Regions from separate parts of the Homo sapiens genome. Here regions 1, 2, 4, 5, 6 and 7 are each reported to be linked to region 3. The links are microRNA targets in miRTarBase. Many come from high-throughput screens and were not tested one by one. Region 3 holds a microRNA gene; each other region holds the end of a gene's coding sequence. Distances are from middle to middle.

What was found. Region 3 holds the annotated microRNA hsa-miR-548bb-3p (CAAAAACCAUAGUUACUUUUGC, at 2,856-2,877, opposite strand). A microRNA usually pairs through its seed, bases 2 to 8, with sites in the 3' UTR of a target mRNA and lowers its output. Matches are read on the target gene's strand: a 7mer-m8 pairs with bases 2 to 8, a 7mer-A1 pairs with bases 2 to 7 and ends in A, and an 8mer does both.
Region 1: the mRNA of RSRC1 is a reported target of hsa-miR-548bb-3p. Seed matches in the 3' UTR shown: 8mer at 1,413-1,420, 8mer at 2,238-2,245 and 7mer-A1 at 2,463-2,469.
Region 2: the mRNA of ATRNL1 is a reported target of hsa-miR-548bb-3p. Seed matches in the 3' UTR shown: 7mer-A1 at 1,013-1,019, 7mer-m8 at 2,627-2,633, 7mer-m8 at 3,239-3,245 and 7mer-m8 at 4,096-4,102.
Region 4: the mRNA of ARID4A is a reported target of hsa-miR-548bb-3p. Seed matches in the 3' UTR shown: 7mer-A1 at 1,733-1,739, 7mer-A1 at 2,166-2,172, 7mer-A1 at 2,363-2,369 and 7mer-m8 at 2,394-2,400.
Region 5: the mRNA of POLR2D is a reported target of hsa-miR-548bb-3p. Seed matches in the 3' UTR shown: 7mer-m8 at 2,304-2,310, 7mer-m8 at 898-904 and 7mer-A1 at 586-592.
Region 6: the mRNA of CDC37L1 is a reported target of hsa-miR-548bb-3p. Seed matches in the 3' UTR shown: 7mer-m8 at 3,431-3,437 and 7mer-m8 at 3,369-3,375.
Region 7: the mRNA of ATP9A is a reported target of hsa-miR-548bb-3p. Seed matches in the 3' UTR shown: 7mer-A1 at 1,676-1,682 and 7mer-A1 at 3,141-3,147.

The regions. Positions count from the first base shown.
Region 1 is chr3:158,542,915-158,547,421 of GRCh38, forward strand. RSRC1 (arginine and serine rich coiled-coil 1) reads left to right here. Exons shown (of 10, transcript NM_001271838.2): 9 at 421-573; 10 at 1,269-2,816. The coding sequence ends at 1,361. It overlaps MLF1-DT (MLF1 divergent transcript), which reads right to left. Exons shown (of 5, transcript NR_104147.1): 5 at 2,306-2,663. Among named protein-coding and RNA genes, the nearest start is that of UC.134, 18 kb to the left of the region's middle.
Region 2 is chr10:115,943,974-115,948,480 of GRCh38, forward strand. It overlaps ATRNL1 (attractin like 1), which reads left to right. Exons shown (of 29, transcript NM_207303.4): 29 at 685-4,507. The coding sequence ends at 806. Among named protein-coding and RNA genes, the nearest start is that of SNORD158, 250 kb to the right of the region's middle.
Region 3 is chr3:60,614,960-60,619,466 of GRCh38, forward strand. MIR548BB (microRNA 548bb) reads right to left here and starts at 2,911; the gene lies at 2,846-2,911. The region is part of intron 4 of FHIT (fragile histidine triad diadenosine triphosphatase); the gene reads right to left. It also overlaps the pseudogene MTERF1P1.
Region 4 is chr14:58,371,007-58,375,513 of GRCh38, forward strand. ARID4A (AT-rich interaction domain 4A) reads left to right here. Exons shown (of 24, transcript NM_002892.4): 24 at 880-2,870. The coding sequence ends at 983. All of the region lies in intron 1 of TOMM20L-DT (TOMM20L divergent transcript), which reads right to left. Among named protein-coding and RNA genes, the nearest start is that of TOMM20L-DT, 22 kb to the right of the region's middle.
Region 5 is chr2:127,845,504-127,849,769 of GRCh38, forward strand. POLR2D (RNA polymerase II subunit D) reads right to left here. Exons shown (of 4, transcript NM_004805.4): 4 at 1-2,682. The coding sequence ends at 2,604. It also overlaps the pseudogene RPS26P19. Among named protein-coding and RNA genes, the nearest start is that of POLR2D, 11 kb to the right of the region's middle.
Region 6 is chr9:4,705,145-4,709,651 of GRCh38, reverse strand. It overlaps CDC37L1 (cell division cycle 37 like 1, HSP90 cochaperone), which reads right to left. Exons shown (of 7, transcript NM_017913.4): 7 at 1,253-3,641. The coding sequence ends at 3,540. It overlaps AK3 (adenylate kinase 3), which reads left to right. Exons shown (of 5, transcript NM_016282.4): 5 at 1-96. Among named protein-coding and RNA genes, the nearest start is that of CDC37L1, 28 kb to the right of the region's middle.
Region 7 is chr20:51,597,978-51,602,484 of GRCh38, reverse strand. It overlaps ATP9A (ATPase phospholipid transporting 9A (putative)), which reads left to right. Exons shown (of 28, transcript NM_006045.3): 28 at 1,138-4,507. The coding sequence ends at 1,274. Among named protein-coding and RNA genes, the nearest start is that of NFATC2, 58 kb to the right of the region's middle.

The sequences.
Region 1 (4,507 bases), 98 Mb from region 3:
TTGTAAGCTTGTTTTGATTAATAGAATTTAGATATATGAAATATATGTATATTTCAATAGTATAGGCACGTAAGTACCAATTTCTTAAGAAAAATGTGCTTATCATAAGAAATGATTGACATTTTCTCAGCATTTTTCTATTTGTTATTCCTAAAACAAATACAATATAGTTATTCCTATATTCTATTTCTATATATCTATAACTATATTCCTAAATATAGTTATTCCTAAACAAACAAATATAAAAATAAAATAACTGTATTTCTAAAACAAACAAATACAAAAAGTAGGGCCTTTTTGGAGATGGGTATCATCTCAAAGGAGACTAATTGAACAGTTGTTATTCAAAATCAGAAATATTTTTGAAGTAAAACTCTAATTGTGTATTGTGTTGAAATTAATATGTGTTGTTTCTTTCAGTCAGTGGAACCTAGTGAAGTGAAACAAGCAACTTCAACATCAGGACCAGCATCAGCAGTTGCTGATCCACCCAGTACTGAAAAAGAAATAGATCCTACCAGCATCCCTACTGCTATCAAGTACCAAGATGACAATTCCCTGGCCCATCCAAATGTAATATCCTTAAACTTTACGAATGTCAGTTGAAGTCTAATTTACTGAAATTATTTCAATCTGTTATCCTTTTGTGCTAACACCAAGGAGACCATTGGAGGAAACAGGTTCATATTCCCTTGCTAAAAATAGGCATCTGGCCCCCAGGCCTTTAGAACTGTTATCTATATTTGAATACAGTAGGGTCCAACTCATGTTGCCTAACCTGTAGAAGTATTCTGTCTATGGTTAAGAAAAATAGACAAAGAGAAGCATTTTTTCCTTTTTTTTTTTTTTAGCTGAATTGATCAGCACCATGAGAAGTGTTTGTTTAAAAATCTAGCACTAAAAGTTCCATTTCTGAGCTCTACTTTGTTCATTATCAGTGAGCACATCACTAACATCATACTTTGCTGTCTTCCATGAAATGTTGTAATTCTGCTGTTTTGGAAAAGTTATAGGAAATAAACTTCACAAATATAAGGTACAAAATTGTTAAGCAATGATGTTGATACTAGTAGTTCTTTTACTCCAAGAATTTCTGAGCATTACTAATTCCAAATAGATAGTCATCAATTAAGAGGTCATCAAGAGTTAAACAGTATCCAAATCTTGTGTTGAGAGATATATTCTACAAAGGTGAGTTCTGTCATTTTAGGTCAAATTCAAGTTATTGGGAGACAGTAACATTTTTTCTTTTTCTTTTCTTATTTCAGTTATTTATCGAGAAAGCTGATGCTGAGGAAAAATGGTTCAAGAGATTAATTGCTCTCCGACAAGAAAGACTAATGGGCAGTCCTGTGGCCTAAGTAATATACATATAGTTGGATTGGATTGTCAGCAGTAACATTGGAAATTTAGGTTTTTAAATCCCAATATTAACTTTTTACTCTTAAAAAGAATTTTGCTGATTATATATAAAGGTAGTCTCATTTCATTTGTCTCTCATGTAGGCTTGAATATTTGTTAATTTGAATTAAATCAAACATTGTAAAAATTAAAACAAAATTTAAGATTGCATGAAAATGTTATACTGTTAATAAAGCTAAACATAAATAAGTCTGTTAAAATGAATGGTAGACACTAGTGTTTCTTAGTGCAATTCAAAAAATGTCAAGATGTCATTTAAAGACACAATTTTGATTAATTATGCATACATGAGAATTGAATTACATGCTATAAATATGAGATTTCATCTTCCGTATGGTATTCAACCATTTTTAAATATTTTATTTCACCATATTGCAAATTTTTAGGCACAATAAAAAGCACCCTAAACAATGTAAGCAGAATGTGCATGTTAAAGAACATATTTATGGAAAAAAAATTTTTGAAACTTAAATAAATTGGTGATTTTGCTTAGAGATCAGCTTCTACTAGATGCTCCTTTACAACATGTTAGCAGATCTCAGCTCATTGTTTTAGAAATCACATGTTCATGCTAGACCTAACCAGTTGGCCAAATACCTATGATGGAGAAATCATTTCTGAGAAAACTGATAAGAGCTCTCACTTCAGTCTTACTTACCCCACTGCTATTCCCTGTGGAGAAAGCCGGCTAATTGTTTTGATAAGGCTATCTGCCATTGTAGAATACCTTTCTCTAGTAGCTGAATGACAATCAACTATACGTTCCATACTAAACATGCCAGAGATAGGACTTTTAGGCCTTGCTTTACAAAACTGGTTTTTAACAGCTGACATGAATATTTCCCGTTTCTATTTTCTTTTTTTTTTTTTTTTTTTTTTTTTTGAGACGGAGTCTCGCTCTATCCCCCATGCTGGAGTGCAGTGGCGCGATCTCAGCTCACTGCAAGCTCCGCCTCCCAGGTTCACGCCATTTTCTTGCCTCAGCCTCCCGAGTAGCTGGGACTACAGGCACCCGCTAACATGCCCAGCTAATTTTTTGTGTTTTTAGTAGAGATGGGGTTTCACCATTTTAGCCAGGATGGTCTATTTTCTTCTGTTGTCCAGTCACTAATTTAGTCTCTGCGAAGACTGTAGCTCAGAACAAAAGATAAGCAAAAAAAGTCTTCAGGGTAGGACTGCCAACATATAGGACATTTTAATGCCATCTTCTTTATATTTCTGGGACATTAAAATTCAAATCTCTGTTGAAAATGAAAAATGTAAAACTTAGTTGCAAACAGTATAGAAAATAAGTGATGATGAAATATTTGTTTTCATACAAACATGCTTTCCCATTCTAAATAGATGCTAGTTTTCTTTTTTCCTTGGCTGTAAATAAAAGTGCCCCAAATGAACCGAGATTTGTGTGGTTTTTAACATAGATGTATACAATTTTAGTGACTTAAAAAGGGGTTACAGTTTATGAAATATTTTTATTTCATACTTTGTATAACTTATAAACTATAGAAGTACTATCACCCTATTGGAAAGTATATGTTAGTGGTCTGGGCAAGAATATGGGTTATCATTTGGGCCACTAATGATTCTCCAGAGGACCTGGGCTAGGCAGTTTTCTCAATATCCCTGATCTTCCTTATCTATAAAACAGTGAAAATCTGGTCTACTTCAATTATATTTAATACCAGTGTTCCTCTGTGGCAAGTACCCCAAATACAGAAGCTTGAACTGTGACAGAATTGTTTTTTGGGGTTTTTTTTGGGGGGGAGGGCGGTGGTTTGAGACAGAGTCTTACTCTGTCATCCAGGCTGGAGTGCATTGGTGCGATCTCGGCTCACTGCAAGCTCCGCCTCCCAGGTTCATGCCATTCTCCTGCCTCAGCCTCCTGAGTAGCTGGGACTACAGGCGCCTGCCACCATGCCCAGCTAATTTTTTGTGTGTGTATTTTTAGTAGAGACGGGGTTTCACCGTGTTAGCCCGGATGGTCTCGATCTCTTGACCTCATGATCCACCCACCTCGGCCTCCCAAAGTGCTGGGATTACAGGCATGAGCCACCATGCCTGGCCGAAAATCAAATTTTTTTAATGAACTAAACTATGGTCCCTACAGGAATTCGGTAACTACTTCCTTCCTCCCTAGTTTTCAACATGATTCATTTTTATATATTATTAACTTCGTTTACCTGCATTCCTATCAAAGACCACAATATTACCACACAAGCCAAATCAAATTTAATAAAAAGGACTGCATAGAACATGATCAAACATATTGCCTAATTCAAGCTAGCCTTCTTTAATATCCTTATATGGTGAGTCTATAAAACAGAATAATTCCTTTCATGTCACTTGATTAATGATAATAATTTGGACATACATGAGACCTTAAGTGTTTTACGAAACATTGATTTCTTACAAAATGATGGGTACTGATAATACAGGTTGAGTTTTCATTTCTGACAAGTAAGTATATTCTCAAGGAAAATGAAATAAGAGCATTTTTCCTGGCACTCTCTAGTTATGAGGAGTCAAAGAGCTAAAGATATGAGCACAGAATACTTTGAATCATTCACCTCCTTTGCTTCAGCATCCTAACATGTGAAATGAGGATACTAATTGCAGACCTGCCTACTTTGATTTTTCAGTAAAATGACATAAAAGAAAGCCCTTCATAGAAACTTCTGCTATTTATGCCAAGGGAACATTTGACATGATAGACATCTTAGTGAAATGTGGAACAAATAGTTGCTACACTCCAACTTGAATGTGTTTATGTGTGTGCTTGAGCTGCCATGGTCAATAGTTGCCGTTCCAGCGATTTCCTCAGCCTTCCCTGCTCTTCTTCCCTGCCAAGGTCGTAAGAAACCTTACTTACTCTGCAATTAGTGACCTACCATCTACTTATTTGAGAAATCTCAGTTCTTCTTTACAGTCAGATTTACCCATTTATTCATGAATATCATTTTGAGTACCTAGTTCATGCTGGGCACAGTAAGATGTGCTTGGGGGATGCATACCTGAATCCAGTAGAGATCCTGCCCTCAAGAGGCTTAGTTGTGAAGCCCAGACATGTAAATGATGTCAGAGATAT
Region 2 (4,507 bases), not on the chromosome of region 3:
TGGAAAAGGCTGAACTACAGAGACATTAAAGAAAGATCAGTGGTTGCCAGAGACTTGGGGAAAGGGGGATAGATTGGTGAAGTGCGGGGGTATTTTAGGGCAGTGAAACTATTTTGTATGATACTGTAATGGTGGATACCCTGCATTATGCATTTGTCAAAACCAATGGAACTATGCAACAGAAAAAGTAAACCCTAATGTAAATTATGGACTTCAGTTGGTAATTTTATCTCAATATTGGTTCAATTTTTCTGTAAATCTAAAACTGCTTGAAATGTTTTTAAAAATCTTAACATGACTAGTTTTGTTCCTAAAAAAAAAAAAAAAAAATAGTAACATTTAAAATTTCTAGTACCTCCACAGCAAACTCGTGTTCAGACATGGAGAGGAAGGTTTAGGGTCATATGCACAACTAAATGTGATCATTTGTCAAACACTGATTTGATTGTTCCAAGTCAGAGTCAGTTAACTTTCTTAGATCTTTCTTCTTCTTCCTTGGTGAAGTTCACATGCCCAAGTCAAGAAACATTTTAGGTAAAGGGCAAACTACTTGAAAACTTCCATTAACAGCCAAACGTGTGATGACTAAATGAAAAGCAATAAAAAGCAGGGCCCTTCACCACCACTGTTGCCATCCCAGAAATGTCTAAGCAAGCATTTAAATGCTTTTCTCTTTCCTTCCAGGCCTTGCAATTGCCAGTGCCCTAATAGATATTTCACAACAGAAAGCTTCAGATAGTAAAGATAAGACTTCTGGAGTCCGGAATCGAAAACACCTTTCAACACGTCAAGGAACTTGTGTCTGAGAAATGGAAACCGCTCCTGTATATTCTGTACTGTTTTACTTCGGGCTTCTGTTAAAGCTGTTCTATGGCCTTGGATTTTATGGAGGCAGATCTCTGTATCATCCAGAGCCTGAGTACAGTTTCCTTCCAAATGGACAATGACCCAGGTGGCCAAAGAATGTTCATGAGTTTTATAAAAGTATTGATGGTCACAGGTGATAAAGTCAGTTTTTACCACTATCTTAGGCTTATTATAGCTAACATTAAATTACTCTGGAAAAAGATGTATATTGTTTCTTAATGAAGATGAAAAATATGTAATTCATATAAATCAACTGTTTATATCCCAAGACTTGAAAGAAAGACATTTTTTAATGCCTGAATGATGAGAATTGTACAGTTTTTGCCTCATAAGCAAACTTGAATCACCTGTGTATGAACAGGGAATGAACACATTGCAATGGCTTTAAATGCTCTTTTATCTCGTTGTAAAGGTAAGGCAAGATTTTGATGTAGTAGGATGTAGGTAATGTATTTAAATATTTCATATGACCATATCGTGTCCAAACTCAGTCTGAGAATGTGACAGCTTTCCGCCTAACTAGAATGCAGACCAGAATGAGTTCAACTCATTCTGTGCAACTTCACAGGGGGTTTATTAGAATGCTCAGTGTAGAGGACATTCCTGTCATCCATGCCAACTACCTAACTCGTTATCAGAGCTGATAGAGCATGGAAAAGTCTGTCCAGCGATCAGTTGTTCCCCTCCTTCCAAAAACAGCCTCCAATACCACAACCTGAAAAGAGCCGAAATGGTTATTTTACAGCATACAAGCTTCTGCTCCAGTATGATAATTTTTAATTGCCTAAGAATCATTGGATCAGACCTAAATGATCCATCTGCATTTTTATAAGAATGGATCTTTCTTTGCCCTTCCTCTCCTAGCTGCTAGATTTTAACTACCTTTTACAAATGTTACAAAATGTATTTTAGAGGCGACATCTCTCAAGATGACCTGAGTTCCTTCCTGCCAACTGTTCCACCTAGAATACAAGTAGAGAAGAGCACTGGCTGGCAAGCATCAACAGGAGTCTTCTTCCCAACACGAGCGCATCCATGTCCTGAGAAAAAGTCTGTGGTTTAGAAAATATGTCCATGGTTGCCCACAGTCAGCACACTCTTAGTGACTCAAAATTCTGAATTATGGCAGAAAGGAAAAATAAAACATACTTCACATTAGAACACAGAATCATTTACATCCTAATACTGACCACAGTTCACTAAAGCTCAGTAGCATTAACAGATATAGTTTGGAATTGCAGTTTCCTCACTTCAGGGTGACAAGATATGTATAACAGTGACAGAAATCTCCAAAGCTGCTGTATATGATATAGCTTTGTTAAATATGAAGGTCCTTTAAATACAATTGATGTTTAGTACTATATATGTACTTTTCACATTCTTTGGATTTCTGGAAGGTTATGACACTTTACTGTTTACAGCTAATGCATAGTTACTTGCATGCCATGGTTGTACAGTAGCAGACTATGACCCTATTGTGATATTAAGTGTTTATTTCATAATGCCATTTATACATAGCTGAATTTGATGAGGATTGAATGTCATATATAAGAGGAATGATCATACAATATGTAGTTGCATCTTATATAAGATTTCTAGGTTGCATCTAACCATGACTATGTCATTATTTTGATAATTAGGCATTTATGAATTATAGTATATATTCCTCATGTTGGCATGATAATTTTGCTATTTTCCATGCATTAAAAATAAGACAAATTCTTAGAGTAATTTTAGTAATTTTATCTATAATCTGTGGGGTTTTTTTGGAGGGGGAGGCCACTGGTTGTTTCTACTTCCCTGTGATATTTTCTCTCTCATTAAAGGAATGAGCTAAGTTTGTAAATATCTCCTAAAAACAATCAAGTAATTTTATTAGCTTCTTTTGGACCCTCTAAATATTGACTTCTCTCATGAAAAAATAAATTGATGAAACTAATGATTACAAAGATATAATCATTTTTTAAAAAGTGATTGCCCAATGTATTTCTCTAACAATTGTCACAAGAGAAAGCATAACAATAAAAATACAAAAACATACAGATTTAGATGTAAAATCTATATAAGCTATATTTTTAGGGAGGCTAAGCAGATAGTATTACTGTGGAAGAATTATCAAGTTTTATTCACCTCAAATCCCACTGGGTTCTTAAAACTTGAAAATTCAAATTGTAGAGAATTATGAGACACAATGTGATGTTTAGTTAAAGTCATGCTATACCTTTCTGGGCCACATATTGCTAACTCTGTGGCTAATTATGCAATTAATTCTCAACGTATCAAAGCTTTTCACTGGCAGTAAATTCTTTGCCCTCAGGTGAAGTGGATTGAAAAGACATCAAGGATCAAGGATAATCACTTTGAATCTGTTGGTTTTTCCCCCTACATTCCAGACACTTTAAATTTGGATGCTTTCATTTTTTTTAAATCAAACCACACAAATATGCAGATACTTTCCCAGAATTTCGCAGTTAAATGGCTGATCCTCTTGAAAACTAACCTTAATGGAATTCTAAACATTTCAGTTTAGAATGACTTTGAAAAATTCCTTAGATTTTTAGGATGTTTTATTCTGCCAAGTATGAAAAAAAAATGGTTAAATACAATGGAGTTTTAAAAATTAACCTGGGGATTCTATTTGAACTAGAAAATTCCTATTGGAAAAGAATTTGCACATACTTACAGATTCAGCTAATAAATTTTAAGAGGATTAGGATTCTCATAATTCTTTAAATGAAAATTTGTTTTAGTGATACACAGAGATGCCGTATACTATAGTGTTATGTTCAGTAGGAAAACTTCAAATAGTTCGTATTTAAAAAGGTAATTGATCCTTGCTGTACTTCCCAACATCTCATCTTCTTTTAGCTGCAGTAAGATAGAGGTGACTGTATGGCTACAGTTCATGGTATAAGGTCATTTAGGGTGCACACTGGCACACAGGCTGGAAAACGGGCACTGGACCCAGCTTTCAGGTGTGTGGTGCTGGGTAAGTTTCACCTTTGAAGCCTCAGCCTTCCATCTGTAAAGGGCGGTAATGGTGCCCACCTTTCGAGGCATTGCGAGGCTAGATGGTAACACACAGAAAGCTCCCACAGTGGGACCTTGATGCAGCGTAGCTGGTATTAACAACCGTGGGGACACCAGGCCACTCTTTTTCTACCAGTTGTTTTATGAATCCACCTATTAATTTTCATCCATCTTTTGGTCGTAGGTAAAGGTCAATCAGGTTTTTCAAAAAGACTCCCTGAATAACTTAAGTTCCTGTATTTCTAAGATATAGGGATTTCTACAAAACGACTTTGACATTTAGTCAATAAAGACTTAAACTCTTCTTAAATCTATAGTTTTAGGAGAGTTTTTCTTAAAATTACTGACTGATGACATTGAGACAAGAGCATCAATGATCACCTTTCACGTACAAACTAGGCAAGACAGGGTCAGTGCTTACATTTTGTGGTTATACATGATACATCTTTTCTCAGTGAACATAAAACTATGATTTGAAAGGTGTCTTATATTTAAAAAAGATTGTAAAATGAAAACTGACCAAATGAACTAATTCTACCCACCTATGGTCTTTTTAAATGTCGAGTTTCAAAACCCATTTGCCGTATACTAGAGTGAGCTTGGAAACTTA
Region 3 (4,507 bases):
GCTGGGACTACAGGCGCCCACAACCACGCCCGGCTAATTTTTGTACTATTAGTAGAGACAGGGTTTCACCATGTTGGCCAGAATGGTCTTGATCTCTTGACCTCGTGATCTGCCTGCCTTGGCCTCCCAAAGTGCTGGGATTACAGTAAAAATTTCTTATATCAAATGACCGTTCTTGAATTGTTACCTTGGATTAACAGGGAGCAACTATTGGCATTTCCATACAGCAATCTACTATCTGGGGATAATCTAGCTTTCCTGGAGGGATGGAAACAAAGTGCATAATGGTTGTTTACCAATCATATAATATCAGACACCAATAATTTGTCATTCACTCTAGTGTTCTACAATCATTAGAGGAGCTATTCAACTGCTCTCAGACATACCAGCTATGATCATGTAGGAAACGTGATTCCGTGGGCTGAATGTACCAACTCTTCACTAACATCTCAATACTCTAGACTGAAGTTAATGACCAGTGCAAACCACCAGAGTATTACAGTAAAAGAACAGCAGTAAAAAGGCCTTAATAAATCAGAAATTTAAATTGGCTATTCATTTTAGTTACAGCCATTCGTCAGAGCAAAGTGATGGTCCAATTCACCTATGCGGTAACTTACATTGATCATAACAGTACTTTAAGTAATATCATCCATTAATTTATTAAGCAAATATTTGAGTAATACCTACTATGTGTACAACCCTCTGCCAGATGCTGCAAGATATATTCAGACATAAAAGAAACAATCTTAACCTTTAAGAAACTTGTAATCCAGTAGGAGAAAAAGACATTTTGTAGAAGTCTTATTCAAATAAAATATGATTCCATAAGATAAGGCTCCATCTAAGCTCTCTGCATTGCAAAGCTGATGGCAAGAACTACATTTCCCAGAATACTCTTCCCTGGATGGTTCGAGTGAAGTTTACCAATAAGAATAGAGTGAGATGTGGAAGAAAAAGAGATAAAGAAACTGTTCTTTGGAAGTCAGACAAATGTGCACAAATGAAGTCTTCCTCATTGCTGTACATTGAGAGATGTCCCTGCTTTCCTTATCGAAACTCTGATCTGTCTATGAGTTATTAACACCCTTGTCAGTAATATCACTTGTCATTAGGTCACAATTCTTGGGACTACCATTGTCTAGGTTCTTCTATTCCACATGCTTTGTTTCTGTGCATGTTGAGTCCAACATGTGTGTATATTTTAGGTAGTGTCACCTGTTTGGATATCCACAAGACCTATTTACACAACACCTGTTACAAAAACTCACCCCAGATGTTTTCTTGTTTGTTCAGTTTAATTTATTATACAAATCTTCACATTTGAAAATATAAGCAAAAGTGATTCTAAGCCACTACAGGAAATTCACAAAAGCAACACCTGGTGTCAACATATTTCATCACATTTTAATGATTATGATGTGCACAGGTGTGCTGAAAGTTTCTCCTCCATACTCTTTGATTCTTTTTTAAAATTTTTTTAATTATACAAGTAATACACTTCTAGAACTAATAAGCAATCATAGCAAGCTTGTGGGACAAAAGTTAATATACAAAGTCAATTGTCTTCTTATTGCTAGCAATGAACAATTGGGACTTGAAATTAAAAACACAATACCATTTACATTAATGCCAAAAATTTAAATACTTAGGTATAAATCAAACGTGAAAGATCTATATAAGGAAAACTATAAAACTTTGCTGAAAGAAATACAAAAGATCTAAGAAAAAGGAAAGCTATCCACATACGCAGACAGGAAATCTCAATATTGTCAAGATATCAGTTCTTCTCAACTTGACCTATACATTCAATGCAACCTCAGTTTTAAAAATCCCAAGCCAAAGTAAAAGCCATCTACGGCACACAGCATTCCGAAAGGTTTGGGCTACCTGACTATTATGGCACCAAGAAATCTCTGGTATATGAGAACTTTCACTTTAATTCAAAATGTTGGATGACCTGATTTTCAGCAGAAATGCTCTTCAAATCAGTTTCACTTAGGCTTTTTGGTGTGAAGTGAAACGATGCAGACAATGAGCTTTGGAGAATGAGGAACCACTGAATAACTTACTATGGAAGTGGATACTGACATGGCAAAGAAACGACAGCCTGGAGTTTTTAACAGAATGTTCCCAATGAGCAGGACCTGAAGATGTTTCTTCGTTCCAAAGGAGCTAGCAAAGAAGTGATTGTTAGCATCATATCAAAATAACTAAAAGCTATAACACACACTCTTGAACGTCTTTCAAAACAATGGGATCTATGAAGGATTATGATATCAGATCTTGATACTGTAAATATTTTGGGCCATTCTCCTGAATGCTTTCTTTTGTCCCATGAAAACCTAAACTTAGGGATTCTATGAGTTCCTCTACTCAGCTGGATTTACCTGTAAATGCCTTTGTTGATTGTTGACCAATGTCCCTTGTACCTTTTCCAATAGTCTCGATCTGAATAAACAGATGGTTAAAGTTTTGCAGGAAGTATATTTTTCATTGGGTCACAATGATCCCACAGATTTTGTAAGAAAGATGATTTTTTAAAACCCTTTCATCTTAATTCAGGGTACCAAGCAGGTAAAAACTAACATTGAATTTTTACAGGCAAGTTTCAATTTGAACAGTAGGGAATTGCTATTTTAATATGTGGTCCAGGAACCAAAATCCTAGACCTTTCCAATGACTATGCCAAAACAAACTACACAAATATCAAACAGAAGCTGTTTTCTCTCTGAGGTACTGAAGAAGAGGTACAAAAGCTTGCCTTAAGTTATCCAGATGTGGGGAAAAAAAGTTATCCAGATGTGATCTTTTGGCAGAGAAAAAGTTTAGTGAGAAGAATATTTTAGCTTGGTGCAAAAGTAACTATGGTTTTTGGGCAAAAACCATAGTTACTTTTGCACCAATCTAATGGATTGTCTCATAGAATAATAAATTAGCCTTCTGTGAAAGTAATTTGTGATAACTGAAAAATCCTTGGGTTCTGGATTCAAGCATAAGTACTTTATAAAGTCAAATCAAAGAATTAGTAAATGCTGGCTGTAACTTGAGGACATCAAGCATCACTCTTCTACTCTGGAGTTAAAAAAAAAAGATACAAAGTAAATTTAAAAAGTTAAGCAGAACACTGGGGAATTTTTGAAAGCCAGTCATATAATGTAGTGGTATCTTTTCATTTTGAATTTGGGCCTTTCAAAAAGGAGGGGTATGATTTCTTAACCACAGATATATATATGTAATAATTCTTTGGCTATTTTGTTTTACAGGTTTATGGAAACTCATGGTTGATATGCTCAGGTGCAGTCCTCCTAGCTACCTATTTTCCAGTTTGAATTACTCCAACATACCATTATTTGATACAGGCTGTGCTGCTGTAGAGATGGTAGTGCCATGGTGATTTGCTACACAGATCATCCCATCACCTAGGTATTAAGCCCAGCATCCATTAGTTACTCTTCCTTATGCTCTCCCTCCCAGCAGCACCCCTCCAACAGGCCCCAGTGTGTGTTGTTCCCTCCATGTGTTGACGTGTGCTCATTATTCAGCTCCCTGTTGTAAGTGAGAACATGTGGTGCTTGGTTTTCCGTTCCTGCGTTAATTTGCTGAGGGCAAAACCTGATTACTTTGAAAACAAGTTCTACTGTGGCAGGCAGAATCATGGCCACACCTAAAGATGTCAACGTTTTAATTTGAAGAAGCTGCGAATATGTTATGCAAAAAGATTTTGCAAATGTGATTAAGTTGAAATTTGATTAAGTTAAGGGCCTTGAGATGACCTTGAATCATCTGAGTGGACCTAATATAATGCTAAGGGTCCTTAAAAGTGGAAGAAGGAGGCAAAAGAGGTCAGAATGATGCTGTATAAGACAGACTTGACCACTTTGAAGGAGGTGAAAAGGAGGCTTTGAAGAAGGAAGGGACCATAAGCCAAAGAATGCAGGGGGCCACAAAGAAAACTGAAAAGCCAATGAAACAGAATCTCCCCTAAAGGCCCCAAAAAGGAATGCAGTACGGCTGGTACCTTTTCAGCCCAGTGGGCCCAGTATCATACTTCTGTCCTACAGAACCACAGGATGATAAATTTGTGTTGTTTGAAGCCACTGAGTCTGATAATTTGTTACAGCAGCAAAGATTAACATAGCAACTAAGTAGATGATTTGTTGCATTATAGGTGGTCACAAAATACAATCCTTTAGTATCATGTATTTTTTCCTCTTACAAGAGTAATTACATTTAAAAAAGCTATCTACTGTTCTAGAATCACTGTCGTTGTTTACAATAAAGTCCTTTAAATGTGCGCATAAAAAACTAAATGTGAATAAAATGTAAATAAAGGAATATTTTTGCCTAATAAATACAAAGAAAATGAAAATCCCAGCAACCTATTTTTTGTGGATATTAACAAACTGATTCTAAAGTGTACATGGAAAAGCAAAAGATTCAGAATATGCAAGACAATATTAAATGAGAAGAACAAAGTAGGAGCACTGACACTATCCGACTTCAA
Region 4 (4,507 bases), not on the chromosome of region 3:
TTGCCTGGGCATGGGGCTCACGCTTATAATTCCAGCACTTTGGGAGGCTGGAGCAGGAAGATCACTTGAGTCCAGGTGTTTGAGACCAGCCTGGGCAACGTAGTGAAATCCCATCTCTACAAAAAATTTAAAAATTAGCTGGGTACAGTGGCATGTCTTAGCTACTTGGAAGGCTGAGGCAGGAGGGTCGCTTGAGCCCCAGAGGTTGTCATGATACTTGAATAAACAAAAATTAAAATTTTAAATAAAATAGGAACAATCAGGCAAAGAAAGGCAGAAGACAAGAGTATTGCAAGGAAAGAGAAGATAAAAGCAAAGAACTTAAAAAGTGGCAAAACACCTAATGCTCAGAGTACCGATCCCTAATCTGTGTTATGTCCTCCTGGAGAAAATTATGTTAAAACCATTTGAGGACTTTTTGCTTATCACACATCATTACTTTGATCCTGATCTCCATGATTCTGATACCTGTCAGAGGAAATCCTCTGAGTTAAATTAATTCTCTTACGGTCCTATGACCCATAGATAAAGCAGAAATTCCATATGGTTCCATGTTTATCTCAGGTTGACCTTGTTTCTGATTGAGCCAAGTTCCTTCATGGGATCTCCCAACTAGAGGTTTAAGAGTTTTTGTCTCTTTAATCTTTACATTTTATGATGTATTTTTAAGTGTTGAGTAGTGCTTAACTGACCAAAGACTAACTCCACTTAATTGAGCCAAACAAAATTTTTGCTGACAATTTGTTACTCCTTCATGTGACATATAAGAGGCCTGTGATTAAGGTGAATAATGTTAAGAATTTTATTTCTAATTTGCTGTTAGCTGGGTATCTTTGTGTAACAGTTTTTGGATCTAACATAGTTGTTTTGATTCCACAGTGTCTCATGCGGGAGCCTCCATGTCATCTGCTTCATCAGACACTGGAATGAGTCCCTCATCATCATCTCCCCCACAAAATGTACTTGCTGTAGAATGCAGGTGATAAACATTTTCTCTACCTTCCCAGCAGTTTGCTGCCATGGACATAAATCCCCAAACCCTGAATTACAACCACAGAAAGCACTCAACTGGTTTGACATTGCTAAGTATATCCTGTATACTTTTCCAGGCTGGATTGTATCTATTCCCCTCTCTCTTCTTTTTTCTTGTTGCAAAAAATAAGCTGATTAATAAGTGAAGGTTAAGCAGCCTGCCATATTTGTCATAATTTTTCCTCTTTACTTTTGTTTTTCGTTTGTTGTGATATAGAACAAAGGGCACTTAGCAAATTTGAATTTGTATAATAAAGCTTTCAGGTGTTACAGAAATCGTAGACAAGCAAGTGCACATGATAAACATCAAAATATTACCCAGCTGAATAGTTACTGCTGCACTTTCACTAAGATGTATTTGAACACTTGGTGAGTAGGGGGTTTATGTTGTGTTTTTTTTCATTATCGTTTTTTTTATTTTTGTGGAAGCACTTGCTATTTAGAACTGCCAAAGTATATGTTCAGCAGTGTGCCCAGGATTGAAGGTGTAAATGGGACAAAATAAATTGTGAAAGGAAGTGTAGTTGACTGAAAACTACAGTTGTAATAAGTCTTCCACTTTTTATAGGATTTTTGAGCACAAAATTATGCAAATATTTTAATGTTTATTAATGTTTACAGTGGAATTGTGAATAAGTTTTCAGTGGACTATCTTATCCCTTGACAAAAATATTTTGTCTTTTTTCTATGTAATTTCAGAGTTTTTATTTTGTTACAAAAAGACAAAAATGAAATATATAACAACAATGAAGTTATTTAACAAGATTTCTAAAGCTGAAATTTTTGTGTAAAATAAGGTATTATCTTGCAACTTGTTAAATATATTTATTCAGACATTGGATGTTGTATTTTTATGTATTTTTTAAAATATTAATAAAATTTAAAAAAAGAAAATTCTAGGTTAATTCACTCTTTGGATGACAATAGCTCTCAGCTGTCCTTTTTACAGGAGGTTGCATCCTGCAGCCTTGCCTGTGTTAAAGGGAGTCTGTCTCAGTCCATCAAACAGTATAGAACTATAAATGGGCATCTGGATCATTAAAGTATGTCCTTGTTTAGAAACTTTGGCAGTCCTAGTATTTAAACTGTTTTGAGGATCAAATTTTTGGTTGCCCTTAAGATACTTTGTCACAGTTTTTATGTTTGCTATACTGCCGAATGAATTTATATCTCCCAAAGTTGAGATGCAACAACTAAGTAAAGCAACTATGTATGCTTTGTCTGTGAATTGTTCCACAGACTGATAGATTTTGTAAATAATTCTTCCAAAATCATGTATTTAAAGCAGTTTTGCATATACATTATGTAAAAAGGTGATTTTATAAAAGCAGTTTTTAAATTCATGTTTGTACATTGAAAGGGGTTTTTTTTTTAAACCTCCTTTTCTGTGTTTAATATGCTGTAGAATAATAACCTAGATGCTCTAGACTGTATATCAGGATCTGATTTACAAGAAAAAGTCAGAGCTAAACACTAGTGATGGCATAGCATTACTGAAATCATTGTTTCTTAATTTCATTTTACTACATTGTGAACTTGTGATTCAGATTCCATTTTCTCAGAGAATTAAAAACAAAAAAAGTACTCTTGTAAAATGCACTTTTCTGTCTTTTCTTTGCAAAGCAGAAGTATCTCAATGTAAAATAAAAATGGAGCTCAGTGGGCAGTATTAATAAAGGCCATGTTTTAAACATAGGCTTTATACTTTTAGTTTTCATTTAAGTGATTGCTTTTTTCCTAAGTGCTTGTAACTTACAGTTGGAAAATCAGATTTCACAAAACCAAGCATTTTAGTATATTCAGCCTTTACAATAAAATATTTCTACTAATTATAAAAATGAAAAAAAAAGTGTCATTTAAATCCATTTGGACCTAGGAGGCAACCTTAGATTTATACATTAAATATTTTAATGATTTCCTTCTGTAGCAATTCAATAAATGTGAGATAAATAAGTTATCAGCTTGAGTACTGTCCCTTCTAATTGATACAAATTTGGTCATGAAGTATTGGGATGTTGCTACAAAGAGCAAAACTGTGTATTCATTGAATAGATACACACTGTTAAAATCCTTTCATTTGGAGGCTGGAAAGGATTATGAAATTAAGTGAATATTGACTAAGTATGACATTTCAAATATTGAGCATATTTTGAGTTTAGGTAAACTTTGAATAGATACCTCTTAAATGTAACTAAGAAAGTAAAAATATAGGCTGGGTGCGGTGGCTCATACCTGTAATCCCAGCATCTTGGGAGGCAGAGGCAGGCGGATCACAAGGTTAAGAGATTGAGACCATCCTGACCAATATGGTGAAACCCCATCTCTGCTAAAAATACAAAAATTAGCTGGGCGTGGTGGCACGTGCTTATAGTCCCAGCTACTCAGGAGGCTGAGGCAGGAGAATCACTTGAACCCGGGAGACAGAGGTTGCAGTGAGCCCAGATCACACCACTGCACTTCAACCTGATGACAGAGCAAGACTCTGTCTAAAAAAAAAAAAAAAAAAAAAAAAAGTAAAAATATAAAGACACTCTAATATAATGCAAGTTGCCATCTGTAAAATCAAGTTATTTAAAAGATTATGGTGCTTTCTGTTTTAGTATTGCATTGTGTGCTTTTATGTATTTCAATTTTTGAAACAGGGTCTTGCTCTGTCACCTAGGCTGGAGTGTAGTGGTGTGAACACAGCTCACTTCAGCCTTGACCTCGTGGGCTCAAGCCATCCTCCCACCTCAGCCTCTTGAGTAGCTGGGACTACAGGCATGTGCCACCACACCTGGCTAATTTTTAAATTTTTTGTAGAGACAGGGTCTTGCTGTGTTGCCCAGGCTGGTCTTGAACTCCTGGGCTCAAGCGATCCTTCTGCCTCGGCCTCCCAAAGTGCAAGGATTATAGGTGTGAGTCATTGTGCCCAGCTGGACATTGTGTGCTTTTATTGTTTGTTATTTTGTGTTAAATTTCTAGTTTTCCTCTCTTTCACTAAGAAAGATGGTTGCACTTAGCATATTAAAAGACTACTACATACTATGCCTTCTATGAAATTGCTTTAAGTTATGAAAATCTATGTGGATTGCCCAGTTAATTTGCTTACATACCTTTCTTATAAGCCCTGTAATTTTTTTTTTTTTTTTTTTTTTTTTTTTTTTTTTTTTTTTTTTGACGGAGTCTTGCTCTGTTGCCCAGGCTGGAATGTAGTGGCGCGATCTCCACTCATTGCAAGCTCCGCCTCCCGGGTTCATGCCATTTTCCTGCTTCAGCCTCCTGAGTAGCTGGGACTACAGGCACCCACCACCACGCCCGGCTAATTTTTTGTATTTTTAGTAGAGACGGGGTTTCACCGTGTTAGCCAGGATGTTCTCAATCTCCTGACCTTGTGATCCGCCCGCCTCAGCCTCCCAAAGTGCTGGGATTACAGGCGTGAGCCACCGCGCCCAGCCTTAAGCCCTGTAATTTAACATAGCTATCAAGAGTGTGA
Region 5 (4,266 bases), not on the chromosome of region 3:
TAGCTGAGATTACAGGCATGCGCCACCACGCCCCGCTAATTTTGTATTTTAAGTAGAGACGGGGTTTCTCCATGTTGGTCAGGATGGTCTCAAACTCCCAACCTCAGGTGATCCGCCTGCCTCGGCCTCTGAAAGCGCTGGGATTACAAGGGTGAGCCACCACGCCTGGCCCAATTTCATTTATTTTCCAAGTCTGATACTATCAGTTGGTAGGCTAACAAATTCTTGCACTAATTTCTATGAAGCAAGCTGACTTAATCATCTATCTATACTAGCTCATCTGCCTGAGATGCTAAGAATAGTGAACATTTACTGGAACATACTATATATCAGACACCTCTAGGCTCTTTGTAATAATTTCCTGTTCATTCAACCTTCTCAAAATACCCATGGGGCAGATACTATTATCCATATTTCACAATTGAGAACACCAATGAGGCTCAAAGAAGCGAAGTTGCTCAAGGATAAAAAGATTGGCCGGTGGCTCACGCCTGTAATCCCAGCACTTTGGGAAGCCGAGGTGGGAGGATCACTTGAGGTCAGTTCAAGACTAGCCTGGCGAACGTGGTGAAACCCTGTCTCTACTAAAAACACAAAAAATTAGCCAGGCGTGGTGGCAGGTACCTGTAATCCCAGCTACTTGGGAGGCTGAGGCAGGAGAATCACTTGAACCCAGAAGGCAGAGGTTGCAGTGAGCCAAGATTGCGCCATTGCATCCTGGGCAACACAGCCAGACTCTATCTCAAAAAATAAATAAATAAATAAAAATAAGAATTTTTTATTCTTGCCTTATTTCGTAGCAAACATAAAACCATCCTGATTTTAAAAGCCAACACTGTTCTTTCTCCTTTTTCCTTGGATCACAAGTTCATACAGAGTCAAGCAAGTGCCCCAAAGAAAAACCCCAAAATTGAAAACAAGTGTATTCCCTTCAGAAAAATCAAAGCTAGAATGTTTAGCTATTGAAGTGTTTTCCCCCAGACTGAGATCAAGTGACTTCACTGCAGTGGCTCAAGAGTGGATGACTCCCTCCTTCCAAATAAAGCACTTATTGCTAATTAGCAGGCCAGAGGCTTAGACTGGATCTCTCATAATTGGAGACTTCAAAGTGTTCAGAACTTCAAGCCTGGCCTATGAAGTAAAAAAAAAAAAAAATTTTTTTAAGTAGAATTGCAATTTTATTTTTCTCCAGAGAAGTTTTTCTTCAGTCCTTAACAACTCCGCTCCTTATATGGGCTTTGGTGGAGGTCATGGGGCAGCACCTGCAGGTCTACGTTGGGGTGGAGGTGTTCGGTCCTTGCCTGCTTCATGAGCTCAATTCCTCACCACTGTGCTGTGAATGGCACAACTCACATGGTAATGTAGCTTCACATCCAGCCTGGGAAGTACACAGGCGTCAAGGATGCTCATTTCAGAAACATCGCTGACTGCTGCGGCCTCTACGTTTCAAATGATGAATTTCTTAGTAGCCTTGTCATTGGGCACACAACAACCACAGTTCATACAGCAAATGGGCTGCAGTGAACAGTGCACACCTGGTTGTGGACCTCTTTGGCACGACCATTGCTTCTTCTTTGTTATCTTGGAGGTGCAGGCCCAAGAAAGATGAAGTAAAAATCTTAATTTGAGGGTGACTAAATGAATCCTTCAAGACCACTTACCCCAAATCCACATTCTGCAAGACAGTTCAAGAAGAAAGGCAAAGTAGCCATCTATCTCAAGGGGCTATGGGCTCCACAATACTTAGCACTTGTCCCCAAGTGTAAACACTTCCCATGGCGTGCTTCTTCCGTCTCCCAGGTTAGGCACAACGATGCCAAGGTGCTGTCATCGACACTCCCATCCTTTAAGAATTTCAGGCCAGTTGTGGTGGCTCATGCCTGTAATCTCACCAGTTTGGGAGGCCAAGGCAGGGGGATCACTTGAGCCCAGGAGTTTAAGACCAGTCTGGACAGCATAGTAAAACCCCACCTCTATAAAAAATTTTAAAAATTAGCTGAGAGTTGTGGTGCACACCTGTGGCCCCAGTTATTTGGGAGGCTGAGGCAGCGGGGTCAAGACTTCAGTGAGCCATGACTGTACGACTGCACTCCTCCAGCCTGGACAAGAGTTAAGACCCTATCTCCATTTAAAAAAAAAAAAAAAAAGCATTTCAAACTAACAGCGGTTTAATTCTTCCTTTAGTATCTAGGTAAAACTGGTCTTTCTCTATAAAGTCTACTATCTTCTGGTCTAGTTTCAAAAAGTATAAACACCCTGAAATTAAAACATGAAATATTAAGAAAAAAGATGATGTGGAGGCCAAAAACCAGGAATGAGGTAGTCAACAGTGTGGTTATGTGACCCCTCATCTCACACTTCGCAGAGGCACGTTCAGGAAGCCACTGGCTGCCACTGCACAAGGCTGCTCCAAGATTCCATGTCACCTGGGCCTGTGAGTTATTTGAAACAGCAACCTAACCCCACGCCAAGCTGGGCTGTTTTCTCCAAAGGAATTCTCAACTGTCTTCAACAGAATTTCTGTGCAAGTCAGCCCCAGACAGTGGGAAGGTGGTGTTATGCCTGGGGATGTGGTTTCTCCGAGCAGCAGTGATGTTTGGAGATTAATACTGAAAGCTGCGCTTTGTCTGGATATCATCAAGAATCTGCTGCAGCTCCTCATCTTCAAACCGTCCCTCCAAGCTACAAGAAAATGAAAAGAAATGAGTGATTTGGCGACTGGCAATTTCCCCGCACTCTTCTTTGAGGCGTGCTAATCTACTGCCCACATCTCTAACACCTTTACCTTTCATCTGGATTTCTTTTCCACTTTTCCTGATAAAACATTACAAAATATTTCAAACATATAAAAGATAAAAGGTATAAAAAATATACCTTTACAGTTAGCCCCACTTGACTTAGAGGTTTTTTTTTTTCTTTTTTTTGAGATGGAGTTTCGCTCTTGCCTCTTAGGCTAGAGTGAAGTGGCATGATCTCGGCTCACCAAAACCTCCACCTCCAGGGTTCAAGTGATTCTCCTGTCTCAGCCTACCAAACGGAGTCTTGCTCTGTCGCCCAGGCTGGAGTGCAGTGGCGCAATCTCGGCTCACTGCAAGCTCCGCCTTCCGGATTCCCACCATTCTCCTGCCTCAGCCTCCCAAGTAGCTGGGACTGCAGGTGCCCGCCACCACGCCCAGCTAATTTTTTGTATTTTTAGTAGAGACAGGGTTTCACTGTGTTATCCAGGACGGTCTCGATCTCCTGACCTCGTGATCCGCCCGCCTCAGCCTCCCAAAGTGCTGGGATTACAGGCGTAAGCCACCACACCCAGCCCTCACCCAGCTAATTTTTATATTTTTAGTAGAGACGGGGTTTCACCACTGGCGAGGCTGGTCTCGAACTCCTGACCTCAGGTGATCCTCCTGTCTCAACCTCCCAAAGTGCTGGGATTACAGGCATGAGCCACCACGCCCGGCCCTGCATTTTTTCATTTACTGTCTTCATGTTTTCTAATGGTATCAACCTCCCAAAGTGCTGGGATGACAGGTGTGAGCCACCACACCTGGCCAGAGTTTTTTTTTGGGACAGAGTGTCGCTCTATTGCCAAACTGGAGTGCAGTGGCGCAATCTCGGCTCACTGCAACCATCACCTCTCGGGTTCCAGTGATTCCCCTACTTCAGCCTCCCGAGTAGCCGGGACTACAGTCGCACACCACCACACCCAGCTAATTTTGTATTTTAGTAGAGATGGAGTTCCACCATGTTGGCCAGGATGGTCTCAACCTCCTGACCTTGTGATCCACCTGCCTCGGCCTCCCAAAGTGCTGGGATTACAGGCTTAAACCACTGCGCCCAGCCCAGAGTTCTTTAATAAGCAGGAAAAGTGGATGGCTGTGTATACTCTCCTAGACCAGTACCTTCCCTCCTTCCCCAGAAATAACCACCATCCTCAATTTAGTATTTATCATTGCCATACATTTAAAAAAAATTTGTTTTGCCATACATATTTTTATACTCACTACACATTTATGGATACGTAAATAATATGCAGCATAGTTTCAAACTTTATAAGAAATGGCATCATACTGTATTTATCCTTCTGCAATTTTTTTCCTCAAAATTCATTCTGGCATATGTTGATATTCCATGTGGTTCTAGTTCATTGATTTTTTTTTTACTGCTGTATAATAAACATTGTATGATTATACAATGATTCATTTATCCATTTTCTTACTGGCCAAGAGATTATCAAATTTCTGCTATCATTAGCAGTGGAGCATGAGGCTG
Region 6 (4,507 bases), not on the chromosome of region 3:
CCCTCCTGCTTTTTATTTGTTTTTAGCTCACTAAATAATATAAACACTGATTTTTCCATATATAGCACTGAATAAACTGTCATGCCTAAGTGTAAATCAGTCCAGCACTGTGTCATCTTTTTCTAAAGCATTCCAAGTTAAATGTCTGATGTGTAAATAACATGAAGAATCATGCTGTTAACTGTGTGAAAGATGTGGGAATTTTAATAATCATTTTCTATATTTAGAGATCAAACAAGTCTAATTCTTCAAAGCTTATGAGAATGGTTTCACTTCATATTAGATGGTGAACAATCCATAATGAACTTATATTCACCCTGTGTCCCCCTCCCGACCCCCTTGGCTCACATAGTGAGCAAATAATTTTCAGATAAATCAACTTCTCAGAACTATGCAATTGTATATACATGTCCATTACAGATGAGAGATGGATGGATTTAAGGGTTTTGTTAAAAGTATGTTTGCTATAATGGCAAAATTGAAATGGAAAGCCCATGAAATGGAAAGCCCAACCTCAACCCAGACAAGTACCTCGGTTCTGTCCCACACCAATTTAAGAACTGAAATACATGATTGACTTAGAAAAGTAAACTGACATTTCGTTCTCCTCTGAAAATACCCAAAGGTTAACTTCAGGATCACCTTGCCTAAACCTACAGTCAACTTTTTTCATCCTGTTAGAAAATCCACTTACTAAAACAGATTCATGTTCTTTGGGCAGCATGTTCATTTTCATTTTTAGATGTTGCCAGGCTGGAGTGCAGTGGCGCCATCTTGGCTCACTGCAACCTCTGCCTCCCGGGGTTCAAGCGATTCTCCTGCCTCAGCCTCCTGAGTAACTGGGACTACAGCCACGCGCCACCATGCCCAGCTAATTTTTGTATTTTGGGTAGAGACAGGGTTTCACCATGTTGGCCAGGATGGTCTCGATCTCCTGACCTCAGGATCCACCCGCCTCGGCCTCCCAAAGTGCCGGGATTACAGGCGTAAGCTACTGCGCCCGGCTGTTCATTCATTTTTAAAAGGGTAATAATATGATATGCCAGTCTGAAAGAAGAGGAGGACCTGATTTTCCTAAAGAGAAGTTATAAGAGATTGTGAGCTCATTAGGCAAAATTTGAAAGAGCTCACTAATGGTATAATTGGAAGAGAATGTTACCCATCTACCTAAGAGTAATAATTTTAAGGCAGTATTATCTTCACTACCACTGAAAAAATGACACTGAGTTAACAGAGAATAAATGGACAGCTATTTGATTTAAAAATTTTTTTATTCAAATATTAATTTTATCAAATGAAACAAGAATCTTTGATGATACTTTGATGTAAAAAAATGTTTCATTCATGTGTTTGCACTTTCCATGGTTTAATTTGTTTAGGGTAAATTGTCCAACCTGAAATATAAATTATCCCTTTGCTTAATATACTCTTTATTTCTTCAGAAACAAAAAAAAGGTAGGAATTAGTTCAAGGATGTCAATTTACTGTTTCTAGTACTAAAGTACGGCTAACTATGTAATTTATAGCCTTTAAGTGCAAATTATGGCATCAGTCAGTGGTTCCCACAACAGACCCAATCACACTTTCATACTCAAAACACAGTATATTCTTTTGCAAGTAAAAATATATAAATCAAGTTTCAAAGAACATCTTTTCAGTGCCCCTCAAGAATAGTTTACTCAGTTTGTTGATACTTTCTCTCCTGCCAGTCTTCAGTCATTAAATACCTCTAACTTAGAGAAGGCAAAATGAAATTCAAAACAATTTGAATGCTTACAGGCAAATCCTGGGAAAGAAGGGAAAATAATAATTCAAGTAACATTTCTGTGAAACTAGGAATATGGCTCCTGTGTCTGCCCATTCTCTCAATTTGGTAGAAAGGGAAAAATAAGAGCTTGCTTCAGAACAGAACAAAAAGAAAAAAATGTCTACGACTAGGTCATGGGTTTAAAAAAAAAAAAAGTACAGGCTGACAAACACTACTATATAAATTAGTCAAACATTTTATTATAGAGTATATATTTATATCAAAAGCACAAAAACGTTTATTCTGAAAACCAGGAAGATTGTGATGTTACAGAAGAAGATTCAATAATTCCAGTCCATTTCTAGGGTACTAAGTGTCTGATCACCTCAGCGAAAACAAGATACAAATGAGGCCAAGGTCACAGGTCTGGCCACCCTGAGTCCCTTCGCACTATTTGGTTTCTCAAGTTGAGACACGTATTCCCAGTCCCAGTTAGCCACCTTCCAAGTGTTTGCTACTAGCCTTAATGGGTACTTAGCCAAAGACTACACCCAAATATAACCAAAGCTTATGTTAAGTCATAAGATTAATCCTTCAATAATAAGGATAGCATAATTGGCTTTGTTACCTAATTCTACATAAACAAAATCATCAAATATCCTGGCATAACTGAAATGACTTACAGAGGAAGTAGTAAAGCTTGGAAGTATTCTATGGTAACTGAGCTGAAAAAGGGGAAATGCCAAATGTTGTAAATGCCATCATTACCAATAAGAGTCACCAAATTCTCAGAAATAGGTAATTGGCAGCTCAAGGCAGTTAGCACTACAAGATTTCTCTTGCCTTTAAAAAAAAAATCATTTTTAAGACTCCTTTTTTAAAAGGCTACATCAAAAAATAAACCAAAATAACAAAAATTAAAAGGCAACATGAGTAAAATAACTACAAATTTAAAAATCAGATTATTATTCCTGTTTGTTCTTACAAGCCATTAGTATTCTTTTAAAACTTACTCCCTGAGAGATCCCAGACTATGTTAAGAAAGAGTGAGCTTGAAGTTATTCTTATTTAAAAAGAAAATCTATATTAGCTCATCACATTTGATATTATTATAACTCTTAAAGTCAGCAGGGTAAAATCAAATTCTAAGGAATATAGTTTTGAGAATAATTTGAGGGTAAATGTAATGTATATATCAAATTTGTATTATAGTCAAGGATTTAACTGATGGTGCCGAAAGTCAAGTATTTAAGAGTTAAGACTTTTAAAAATTGTACCCCCCAACTTATTTAGTAAAGTACATTACCAACTACTGATTTATTGCTTTTAATGTGATGAAACACCAAATTTGACAGCTAAAGTAGCAGTGGGATACAAGTATGTTTTTATCTTTAATCATTTTTGTAGAATAGGACATGTACATATCCATATAAAAAGAGACTGTAGCAGATGCCTCCCAGAATCAACCAGTTCTTGTAAACATTGCATTTGTGCAGATTTTCATACTTGATTCCAAAATTGAGAACAATAAGATTAAAAGCAAATTTAGTAGCCACAAAAAGTCCAGTTTGACTTCCTGCAACATATGGTACCACTCTTCTCTTCAGAACAAAACAAAACAAAAAACCTAGCAGCACATTAAAAAAAATTTACAAAACATTTCAGTACTCTTTCCCTCCCATCAAAAACCGAACAAAAATAAAGTGCAGCACCCATAAAAGTGTCAAGAAAATAGCCAAGTTCTTCCTTTCTTGTAACAAAATAGCACTTGGCCTCAGCAGTCTTAACCAAATTATACAGTGTCCATCATTTTGGGTTCATCATCTTCTTTATGTACCACCGAGTTTAAGCTGCAGAGAGCTGTACTGATAGAATACTGAAGATAATCTGGATTCTGGGGAAAAAGAAAAGGTAGATTGGGGGGAGAAAAAGAACGCATTATAACCAGTTTTATGACAGTACATACATATATATTCAGTTTCACCGTCCTATTTCTCTGCAGTGTAGTAGAGCAGTAGGAAAGAAGATGGACTTTGGAGACAGACTTGGGCTGAATCCCAAGAAAATAAAGAAAAAAATAGGATGCTATCACCTATGAGATGTGATAAAAGAATGATACATGTAAAAAACAGAAATGTTAACAAATACCACCTTTCTTCTCTGTTTAATCATACAAGGCAAGGCTACAACCTCCATGTGATTATATATACATAGCTACTGATAATTTAAATATGGTTTGAAGTTAGCAATGCATTTTTAAGATTACCATCTAATTACAACAGTAAATACTAAAACTGCAAATCATCTAAATAAAGAAAAAATTTACTGGGTAAAAATTATGGATATCTTCAGGGTCTATTGTGGTTTCCCAAAGGTTAAAACAAACTCAGTGAGAAATCTGTACACTTTTGAGATGTATTTACACCCTTATTTTTTAAACTGAGAATAAAACAACAGGATTTGTTAAACAAGCATAAACTCATAAATGTTATGCTTGTCAATTTCAAAAACTGGGAATAGAAAACATAAAATCTTACTCAATAAATGCAAAAATAAAACCATTATTAAAGCACCATGAATAAGGGTATAGCCCTTAAGACCCAGAACTTTAGAAAATTCTTCCCCAATTCAATTTTGTCTACTCAATTGTTCCGAATATCTGCTAGTTACTTAAGACTTTTACCACTTGTATTACTAGTTTTACTTATATTTATTTTATTTAATAAACACCAGTGAGGACAGTAGTCAAACAGGATAGAT
Region 7 (4,507 bases), not on the chromosome of region 3:
AAAGGCTTGGGCCTGAGGTGGTCACAGAGATGTGGCCCCTGCTCAGGAAGCTCAGCTTGTTTGTGATAGGGACACACCACAGGACCGGGTCAGAGGTGTAGGAAAACCACAGGGTGAGTTGAGCCTTGGGCCTGGCACTTAGTAGGTGCTGCCTCAGTGGCAGCTGCATTTCAGCATCCTGTGCTCAGAAAGTGGAGAAGGGGCTTATTCTGGCTTCTGCTATATTGAAAGCCACAAACTGTCACTCCTCTCTTAAGAAAACCTCATAACCGGGTTTATAATCCTGCAGCAGGAAAGGCAGTACGCCCGCCCCCCCCACCTTCCATCAGAGTCCCTGAGGGTCAGCTTAAGCCTTTCTCTGACAAGGGGGTCTGAACACTTTGCACCATGACCCAGACTCATCCTGTGGCTTTCTGCGACCATCACTGGAAGCAGAGGGTGCATTTGAATGTCATTTTCTGCTCGCCAGTGGCCGGGACTTAGAAAGACTCTCCAACTGTTAGACAACACCAAATCAAAAGCATCTCTGAGTTTTCTTCCCCTGTAATTTTCTTTCCTTCTTTTTTTCTCTTTTTTTTGAGACAGTGTCTTATTCTGTTGCCCAGGGTGGAGTGCGGTGGTGCAATGTTGGCTCACTGCAGTCTCAAGCTCCCCGGGCTCAGATGATCCTCCCACCTCAGCCTCCTGAACAGCTGGGACTATAGGCATGTACCACCATGCCTGGCTAGTTTTTGTATTTTTTGTAGAGACAGGGTTTTGCTGTGTTGCCCAAGCTGGTCTCAAACTCCTGGGTTCAATTCTTCTGCCCGCCTTGGCCTCCCAGAGTGCTGGGATTAAGGCATGAGCCACTGCATCTGGTGGCCCCCATAGTTTTCTTCTCCTGGGTGTTAAAAGTAGCATTTCACTGTCAGGAAGCTACAGAAGAGAGAGCGAGGAAAATCAAGCTGCGGCGCTGTGTGCTCTTAGCCATGGTACCTTCCCTTACAGTCCATGGAGAAAGAGGGCCAATGCCAGGAGGCTGTGGGTTTGTGACGGGAGATGACTTTCCCTTTGATAGTTGTGACGCCTGTTTCTGGACCCCATGCACCTTCCGGAATATTCCTGCCTGCTCACTGCCGTCTTCCCCTTTCCTTGCAGATGTGTACTTCATCGCCACCTTGTCATTCTTGTGGAAAGTCTCCGTCATCACTCTGGTCAGCTGCCTCCCCCTCTATGTCCTCAAGTACCTGCGAAGACGGTTCTCTCCCCCCAGCTACTCAAAGCTCACATCATAGGCCGTGCGTTCGCTGGAGGGGGCCCTGGTCTTGGCGCTTCCCTGATGGACAGAGCTCAAGTTCCATTTATATTAACCGCCACCTGTGGATTTTGCAGTAATTGCTAACACATGCAGTTTTAATGGGAAGTGGCTCTGCGCCTAAACGGAGTCCTAACGCTGCATCAACGGGAGGGAGGGTCCTGAAAGAGACCCATCTGGGCCTGTCTGAACCCCTCGTTCTTCATGTTTAGGTGAATATGAATATGTTAAAGCTGGTGGCTCAGCTGGGAGATTTATATGGGTCACTGTGCGAGCTTCCTTATGACTTGAATTTTGTTGTCACATGATAAAAGTTTCTGTGTAGCTGAAGGTTGTAGAAGGCTTGTGTGTGTGTGTGTGTGTGTGTGTGTGTGTGTGTGTGTTTTTAAAGAGTCCTAATGTGTATGTACTCTTTATGTCTTTCTTGCTCTTACAAAGAGGTGTCAGAAAAATAGAAAGCTCTTGGTGTCGGTTTGGGAGGAAAAGACAGTGACATTTGGTAAAAAGTTATCCACACAATAATCTCCATTCGGAAATGCTCAGTATCGTCTCCAGCCAGCCCTGCTTATCCAGGTTACACTGGATTCCTGGGATCGTAACCAGTAAATGAGAGGAGAGGGAGAGAGAGTGTCCTAAGTCCAATCTGTTATCCTTGATCTGATTCAGCATCCATAGTGTGTGAGTTAACTTCACCTGCCACCTCGTAAAAGAATTTCAGAGGTGTGATCCCGCTTTATTGGGACCTGGTAACAATCACAAAGCCAGTGGCTGTTTGAGAAGGACCTCAGACATTTTCAGCAGAGTTGTTTTAGCAGGAAACGTGCCACTGAATGGCCCCTAAATGTGTCGACAGTGTGATAAGAGACTCAACTAATTCTTTAGGCAACATGGCAGATGTGACTCAGATCCTCCAAGACCAAAGCGGAAAGGTCAGGGGGCTGGGACTCTTCTCTTCCATAGAAGCCTGTTTCCTGTTAGGAGGCATAATGGAAGATGACCCCACAAAGGCAGAGGCATCTTTCGGAACAACACTGGTGGCAGCTTTCAGAACAAGGAACCCCTGGTGGGAGGACGCCCAAGCTACAGCGTTGGGATCTGGGATCTGTTCCACTGCCGGCAGATTTCAAGGGGAACTTGCTGAAAGGCAGCCAGTGGTGAAGATTTCTCCCCTCCCAGGATGGACTACATGCCGGCATGTTTCTTATAAAGCTGTGGCTGCTTGTTTCAGAGGAAGGGAGTTTGCAGTCGCGGGACGTGGTAGAGCAAGGCATTCTTGGGTTTTCAAGTTGCTTCTTGCAGAAGCCACATATGCATGCCATAAGGGTTAAGTTGGTGGATCTTTAAGAGCCAAGTGTGGTTGAGATCTTGGATTTGCGTTTACTTCTTGATGAATACATATCCTTCAAACCCTCTGCCTGGCGCTACTTCTGTGTGCTTCAGAGATGTACATCACAGCCTGGTTTCTGATGCCTACTAACTCCTGCTCTTGGAGAGCTGGAGACACGAGGATCAGATAGTCCCTTGCCTTTGGAGCACTCTTGATAAGCTTTTGTATTTTGTGTTGTCCTTTTAAAATGTTCTAGAATGACTTTACGTTGCAGGTACTGGTTAATTGGCTGTTGACACCACATCTATTTTGTCTTATGATTCTGCAGTTTTGCAGTACTTTTCTCTATCTGATTCAGCCATTTCTGCCAGAGGGAAAAGGTCGGCAGAAAAGATGTATTGAGTGAATAGTTAAGGATAGGATCTTTGTCCAAAAATTTCAGAAAGATTGAGCAAATCTGACGTATTCATTGAGTGAGTTTCTGTGTTTTCAAAGGTGGAGGAGAAATTTGTGCTGGAAGTTTTTAAGCCTCCGTTTTCTTGGAAATCAGTCTGTAACACTGGCAAGTCTTAAGATAGTCCCATTTAGACTTTGCAGATGCTGAACCTGGCTCTGTAACGCTGGGAAGTCTTAAGATAGTCCTGTTTAGACTTTGCAAACCCTGTACCTGGCTTTGCTCGGAGATTCGGGATGCTGGCTCCTGCAGGCAGGGCGTGTGGGAGCCTCGTCAGAAAGTTTTAGAGGTTTCCAGCAGAAGCAGAATGAAGATGGTCTCCCTGGCCTTTTCCTTAATTCTCAATTTTGATTGAGGTGCACAAGTTGACTTTTAAAGCCAACGCTTAAGATACTGATTGACATCTTCAAGGGAGAATGCTCCCAGGAGGGGCTGAAGAAGCCATAGTTGGAAGTGGAAGGTACTCGTCAGTGTTCTCCACAAACCTTTTTACTCTGTTGTCTCAGCCGCACTGGGGCGGAGGCGGTCAAGGGTGAGAAGTACCGACACTCAAGTGCAAACTGCCACGTCGTTGGCCCATCCCATCAGTGGGCAGCTGGCTGACGCCATTCACTGGACGGTCCCTGAACACCTAGGAATGCACACACCGTGCTTCTCAGACACTGGAGACGCAAAGGCAGGAGGATGCAGTCCGGTGAGAGGACACGATCTTTACCTGCACAATCAGACTGTAAGCCCAGCAGAGAACCCCAGGGGCGCCTGGGTACTTCTCGGAGGTCATCTTAGTTGTGGTGGGGAAGACAAAGAAATAAGCAAACAAGAAACTAGAGTTACTATACAAGAAACTCTCCTGAGTTTGTAAACCTTAAGCATAAGGATTCAGTTGACCTTTTTCTTGGTTCATCAATCTGGAAAGAACTTACATAAAGCGCCATTGACACTGTCACCTGGGAGCTCCATGGGCCGTAAGTCTTTGACAGCCAATTTAATTTGAGGTCAGAGGGCCTTGAGGTACACAGTCAGCACTGTTTGAACACTTTTCCTGAAAGCAAAACTCACAGCTCCCTGCGCCCTCTGACAACACTAGCTATTTCTGCCAGAGTAAGAACTTCTATTACTATTTTATTATTGTTCATATGTCTTTTGATGATGGTTGTGTGACAGGGGGAAGCAGGATCTATTTGGTTTCTTCCCCTCCCCCCACCCCTTCCTTTTTGTCTCTCTTTTTTTTTCTCTAAGAAAATCACCAGACTAGTTTTTCCATCTTGAGTAATTTCTTATGTGGGACAGTTTTGATCCTCATTTTGAAAGCATGCGTGTGCACATGTGTGTTGCCTGTGGTGCCAGGTGAGACAGGTGGCACTAACTCCAGCTGCTTGGAAGGCATCCCAAGGGCGCATCTTAAAGTTGGAGCAGACCTCCCTTTTCCAGC